2 linked regions of the Homo sapiens genome follow. The gene in region 1 interacts genetically with each later gene. Each region holds a gene or a part of one and is shown in the gene's direction. Other genes may lie near its edges.

Region 1 (3,655 bases):
CCTGTGGCATTTATTGTGCGTTCAGAAAGGCAGAAATACAAACCAGCTATAATAGCAGTTTTTAATTCTGTTCTAGAATAGAGATACAAGCAGCATACACCAGAGTTGGTCAGAGTGTGCTGCTTGTCTATGTGTTAACTTCCACTTTTCCTTAAAACTACCCATATCTTATTTTTATCAATTATTGGTAGATAGCATTTTAATCTGTTTTTGTTGTTGGCATTTTCAGGTATAAGAAAAGCACTACCTCCAGCACCAGAAACAAAGAAGGTAGGTGGTCTTTAGCTTTTGATAGTTAATCTTTACATTTTAAGCCTTTAAGTCTTAAGTTTTGGTAGTGTTTGTGACTTACTGAGTATGCGGTTTATTCATTGATGTGACACAATTTTTCCCTAGGATCGTCTCAGAAGCAGATGTGCTGTAGCTTATTTCAATTTTTTGTGGTGTCAAATAATACCAATTTAATTGTATGAGATTTTATCATTGGAGATCCTGTTATCATCTGGCATTTTGCCTCTATTTTCACTTAAAGAGTTGTATTAAGAGGAGTGGGATTTAGATAAATATTTCAGTCTTAAGACCACAGTGTGACAAAGAAGTGACTTCACTGATATAATGATATGCCTTTCAGGAGTGGGGTATAGTGGAGGAAACATGCACTTTGGACTCATTCAAGACTTGATCTGATATGAGTGACTTTGAGTGGGTTAATTAAATCATTGTTACCTTAGTTATGAAACAGGAATTATAATACTCTTCTTCATGAGAGTTTGTTGGATTATAGTAAGTAGACTTGAAGTTTCTAGTTTATTCTGTGGTGATGTATGACTCATTTAGTGTTTTGATTCATGATCAGTTTCATATAGAAGACTAAACTTTCAAATGTTATCTTCCTTGTCTAGCGAAGGCCTCCCCCACCAATTCCACTAGAAGAAGAAGATAATAGTGAAGAAATCGTTGTAGCCATGTATGATTTCCAAGCAGCAGAAGGACATGATCTCAGATTAGAGAGAGGCCAAGAGTATCTCATTTTAGAAAAGAATGATGTTCATTGGTGGAGAGCAAGAGATAAATATGGGTAAGTATTCCCTCTATGTGTGTGATATGCAGTGGGTAGGTGGGAGTCAAGTGTTGAGTGAGAAGTAGATAAGTCGTAACTATCGTGTAATGAGACTAATTTCACCAGCCATAAATGGAAGCACACCTTATTACTTGGTAGTAACACAGTCCTTTCTTAGTGGTCACTCAGTAAATGCGAATTGATCAATCACTTCTTTTCAAAAGTTAGAATACATTGGTCTCTTTCTCATCTGATACATGTTTAATGTGATTATTTTGACCTTGAGGGAAATTAAATTTTATATTTTGTCCCCACCTGCCATAAGTAAGTAATCTTAGATTTTTCTAAGAGTTTATTGTAATTTTTTTCTTAGACTCTCTCTCTCTATATATACGTATGTGTATGTGCGTGTGTGTATGCATACACATACACAGTATAATGAAGCCTCTTCTCACTTCTTTCTCTCTCTCCATGAATATATGGAGGAATAAGAGAATATATATATATGTATATGTGTGTGTCTATATGTGTGTATATGTGTTTGTGTATGTATATATAAAATATATATATGTACATGCAGGAAATTAAACAGCAAGCTTTTTTTTGTACAAGTTAATTTAGGATTTAAAGAAAACAGTCCTTTCAACCCTATCATTGATAAATATATGGGCAGATAGGGGTAACTGTAGGGGATGAGTATCTTGCAGGCTTCATAAGCAAACTCTGTATCCTGTGTTTACCTCTGCAGTGCAATCCCACTTATACTCTGAGTTCCAGTGGATGAGAAGAGGAGAACTTTTTGTCCTGCCAGAGCACACTCTTCTTCCACCTGCCCTCTCACCTCCCAGCCCCAGCCCCAATTTCAAGTCACTGTTCCTCAGTTCACTTCTGGAGAAGCAGTGGAAACCTCTAGTTTAGGCGGGGTCCTTTTCTTCTGCTTGATTCCTAGGCATGGTGCATATATGAGTGCTGTTTTGCTGTGCATTATTAACTTATTTGCAACTCTTAACCTTTTATTCCATGTTTACAGGAAGGTTGTCACTGCTTCTCTTTATCGGATGCTGTATAAGATTGATTTCTATTTTTAATTTTTTTTTGTTGTAGAAATTTTCAAGCATCCAAAAAGTATATAATAGTATAATAGAATCTCTTTTTGCTTGACTTCAAAAATTACCAACATTTTGCCAGTCTAATCCTTCCATTTTTTTCTAGAATATTTAAAAGTAAATTCAAGTCATCATGTTATTTCACTCCTAAATCTAAATTCTAAAGACTTAAAAAAAACACCACCATGTCATTATCATTCTTAATAACAGTATTTTAAATAAGATCGTCTGTAGACTTTCCCTTAATATTTTTGTACCTGGAGGAAGAGTACAAATGAGAATCCACATAACATATATCTAAGTATTTAGGAGTTATAAATCAAGCTAGCAAACTTTATCCTCCAACTTGACAAATACCCTTTCATAGTGACAAGAAAGGCACGGTTTGGATTTAGAGCTCTGTGCCAGAATGTTGCAGTGCATGGAAAGCTGGCTCTGGGGGGGCTACCTCTCTTCTTTCTTCCCTCCTGCCCTGGCTCTATCTCTCATGTACCATATGGATCTTCCAACCTGTACACCCACACTCTTACTGCGTGGCTTGCAAAAGCTACCCCGCATCATGGCCACACCTTCAGCCTCAGTGAAAGGGAATGCACATGGCCAGCCAGCACAATTTGTTTTTTAGAAGATGGACCCAGTAGAAGGCCCATGTAGACCTTGGAAATGAGCAGGGTGTTCTGGGGTCCTAGTTACCCAGAAAGGAGCATGGGAACACAGGTCAGAGGGAACACGCACTTTTGCAGAGCTCTCAAAAGTGTGGGGTTAGAGCAAGAGCTTCTCTGGCCCAGGTCTAAGGATGGAACCAATTATGTAATTCCAGTTTCCCCGATTAGCTCTAATACTTATTTTTACTGTTGGTTTATTCAAATCAGGACCCACACACTGCATTTTGGTTAATATATCTCTTATGTTTCTCTTATTCTACATTTTTGATTTATTGATGAAAGCAGGTCATTTAACACTAAAATGAGCCATAATCTAGATGAAACAGATTGTTTTCTTGTGGTGTCACTTAATATGCCTGTGTTTCTTGTATTTCTTGTGAACTGGCGAGTAGAGCTAGAGGCTTGATCACATTAGAAGGTGATCTCTGGATGTCCTACTTTTAGTAATGCTAAGATTGCTTAGTGGTTCAGGTGTCAGACTTGTTCCTCTGTCATAAAGTTCTTCATTGGTATTTACCCTGATGATTTGGGGGTTCATTAATGATTCTTTCTTAGAGTCATTATTTCATTAGGGGTTACAAAATGGTGATTTCCTAATTTTGTCATTCCATCTGCATTTAGTAGTTCTCTAAAGAAGAACTGCCTCATATACCAGTTCATTTAGTTCATGAAGGAAAGGAAAGATGAAATTTGGATTCTTAAACTTTTACTAGTTTTCAGAATAATGAGTTGATGACTGAGCTTTCTCTAGTGATAACAATGGTAACCAACAGTTTATTTTTAGTGTTATTATGGATACTTATATATTTGGTTCCAATCCATTG
Region 2 (3,655 bases), on another chromosome or scaffold:
GGGTGGAGTGGTGTGATCACAGCTCACTGCTGCCCTGAATTCCTGGGCTGAAGGGATCCTCTTGCTTCAGCCTCCTGAGTAGCTGGGACTACAGGCAAGAGCCACCACTTATTTTTGAATTTTTTGTGGAAACAAGGTCTCCCTATGTTGCCCAGGCTGGTCTTGAACTCCTGGGCTCAGCGATCCTCCCACCTCAGGCCCCTGTGCTGGGATTATAGCCTCCTGTGCTGGGATTACAGGCCTAAGCCACTGCACCAGGCTTTTATTTTTTAATTTAAAAAAATTTATTTTTTTGAGACAGGGTCTCACTTTGTCCCTCAGACTGGATGCACTGGTGCAATCTTGTTTCACTGCAGCCTTGACCTCCCTCCTGGGTTCAAGTGATCCTCGTGCCTCAGCCCCCCAAGTAGCTGAGACTACTGCTGCACACCGCCACACCCACCTAATTTTTGTATTTTTAGTAGAGAACGGGTTTCTCCATGTTGGCCCAGCTGGTCTTGAACTCCTGGGCTCAAGCGATCCACCCACCTCAGCCTCCCAAAGTGCTAGGATTACAGGCATGAGCCACCATGCCTGGCCTAAAAATATTTTTTTCAGCTCTAGAAATGTTAGCTCTTTTGCTGTACATTTCCAGAGCTGCTTTAATAATGACAGTTATCACACGCATAATTTCATGTGATGATTGCATTCTTAATTTTTAAATTTAACAACTGCACTTACTTCATGAGGTCTTGTTCATTGATACATCTTTAGCACCTAGTGTGCTTCTGGTGTAGCACACGGTTGATATAAATTGAAATTGAATTAATGCTCACAGTAGTTTGGGGATGGAGCTGGTAGTTCTGCATTAATTTTGCAGGTGAAAAAAAAAGGCATGAGGAAGTTGAAACTTGCCAAAAAATACAGCCAGTACGTGCTAGAATTGGCCCTGGGTCTCAAATCTGGGCTTCTGACTCCAAAGCTTAGGCTCCTGCTCATACAGGTTTATTTTCACATTCTAAGCTTTTAACGAAATGTATGTCCAATGAGTCATTTCTGTTTAGAAAGCCTTTAGGAGTTGGAAGCTACTTCCTGGTGATGTAATGTTTGACTCTCTAAAGTCTTTGGAATGGGGAGTTCCAACTTTTGTTAAGCCCTCAATAATGTCATGAGTGAATGAATATTGGCAAGACTGGCTGGGCCTGTAATCTGCCTTGAGTGTGAGGGAAAATGGAAAAGCGCTTAACTTTATGGTGAATTCTAATTTATAGTAGTTGAGATTGAACGACAAAAATCTTAAAATTATGATGCTGATGTGTCATTGTGACCTTGGTAAACTGACAGCACAGCAGAGAGAAGGGCTCATTAAGGAGAGCACTTGGCTAACTGAACCCTCAGGATGCCAGAGACTTGAATTCTCATGTAAGCCCTTAAGCTTGCCTTGTCAATGCTGTAAAAATTGGAGACCTTTATGTTTTGCTAATGATGTGGTGACCTTAGTTATTAGGTGATAGCCTCTTGAAAAACATTCCAGGTGGTTGGGAGACTTTCAGCCACCACTCTTCTGCCTGGCGGCACACTGGTAATATTAGGATTAGTCTCTACCCATTGCCAGTTGTGCAGGTGGTGCTCCTTTCTCTGAAGTATTTCTACACACTTCTCTGTTTGGCAAGTTTAACTCCCATCGTCTCTGAGCTGTTAATTAAATGTCTGGGATGTATTGTGATAGTCCCTGCTTATAGACTTATGGTGCTGTGTGAGGATTGGGGCTGGGGGAGGTGGCATTTAAATACAGCTGAATCAATGTGATGGCAGTTACGTGTGGTAGTTTATTGACTAAGCACTTTCTCTCAAGAGAACAGTCATTGCTGATTGCCATAGGGGAGGCTGTAGGGATGTGGTGGGATTTTGAGCTGTCCCACTTAAGGCAGCAGAATAAGTTACTTAAAGAGGAAGGCTGTGTTTGTATATTAGTGTTAATTAAAATACCTTTAGGCTGGGTGTGGTGGCTCCAGCCTGTAATCCCAGCACTTTGGGAGGTCCAGGTGGGCGGATCACTTGAGGTCAGGAGTTCGAGACCAGCCTGGCCAACATGGCGAAAACCCATCTCTACTAAAAATACAAAAAAATTATCCAGGCGTGGTGGTGGACAGCTGTAATCCCAGCTACTTGGGAGGCTGAGGCAGGAGAATCGCTTGAACCTGGGAGGCAGAGGTTGCAGTGAGCCAAGATGGTGCCTCTGCACTGCACTCCAGCTGGGGCGACAGCACGAGACTCGGTCTCAAAAAAAAAAAAAAAAGAAAAAAAAGAAAAAAAGAAAATATCTTCAGGATCAAACTTAAGATTCTTGATGAGAGGCTCTACAGATGTTCACAGAAGAGACGTGAAGTTTTAAAATCTTGTTTCTCTTGAGTCTTGTAGCTAGGTGACAACTGTTTCTTGACTATTAATGCTAACACCGGGTACCTAAACAGAATGTGATGGCTCCTGACTCTATCTTTCTGAGAAATTCTAGTTTGTTTACTTTAAATTTCAGGGTACCAATGTGTATGTGGTGATAAAGGGTTATAGAAAACATTTTCTTTAATGCTAAGTATGTGATGTATATGCCTTGATTTTTTTTCTCTAGAAATTATTTTAACTTAATAGTGAAAGCTAAGATTACATTCATGTTGACTAAGCAACCTTTTTTCTCTTTCTCTTTAGAGCTGTAGGTAAAACTTGCCTACTGATCAGTTACACAACCAATGCATTTCCTGGAGAATATATCCCTACTGTGTAAGTATCTTAAATTGGGAATTAACCTGTTTGTGTTACGGGTTTCACATTTCTTTGACCATTTGTTTTGCTGTAAAGCCATCTTTAATCCTCATATGAACAGATACTAATTTTTTCTTAAACATTCACTGAAACCTAATTATAAGGTATATTAGGCTTTTAAAAAATAGGGCTGGGGGTGGTGATCTCAGCACTTTGGGAGACTGAGGCGGGTGGATCAACTGAGGGTCAGGAGTTCGAGACCAGCATGGTCAACGTGATGAAACCCCATCTCTACTAAAAATACAAAAAATTAGCCAGGTGTGGTGGCGGGTGCCTGTAATCCCACATACTTGGGAGGCTGAGGCAGGAGAATCACTCGAACCGTGGAGGCGGAGGTTGCAGTGAGCCAAGATCACGCCACTGCACTCCAGCCTGGGCAATGAGAGCGAAACTCCATCTCAAAAGAAAAAAAAAAAAGAAACTTAGGGTAATATAAACTTTTCACAACTTTGCTAGTTGATTTTTAGACATCCAGAAAGCAAACTTTAACTGTCTGTGAGGTACAGAGACTGGATGATGTTAAAGAAAACCATAGTTGGACACAAGAACTCTGACCAAAAGTCTGATCAGAAACAGTCCTTGTCAGTGCACGAGTTTCAGATACACTGGCTTTCTGGGAACTGGAAAGGGAAAGATTCCATTACGTTTTAATTGGCCTTTTCTGATAAGTCATCAGTTGGTTACATGTCCGCATTGAGGTGTAGGGCTTTGGAATTGAAACTTGGGTGTGTGTGTTGAAGGGGGAATGGGAGGGTGGAATTGGCTATTGAATTGCTTACTCCCTATAGGCAGCAGAATTGGGTGGAGACAGGAAAGTGCTGCTCTGGTGATGGGTTACCCGGGAGCGCACGTAGCT

Evidence for each region. A genetic interaction does not mean that the proteins touch.
Region 2: of TEC (region 1) and RAC1, changing one enhances a phenotype caused by changing the other (phenotypic enhancement), as found in Homo sapiens cells (one study listed by BioGRID).

Annotation. Positions count from the first base shown.
Region 1 is NC_000004.12:48,165,201-48,168,855, reverse strand, and holds part of TEC (tyrosine-protein kinase Tec), read left to right. Parts: intron 1-229; coding exon 230-270; intron 271-902; coding exon 903-1,078; intron 1,079-3,655.
Region 2 is NC_000007.14:6,384,527-6,388,181, forward strand, and holds part of RAC1 (ras-related C3 botulinum toxin substrate 1), read left to right. Parts: intron 1-2,685; coding exon 2,686-2,757; intron 2,758-3,655. UniProt on the Homo sapiens protein: Plasma membrane-associated small GTPase which cycles between active GTP-bound and inactive GDP-bound states.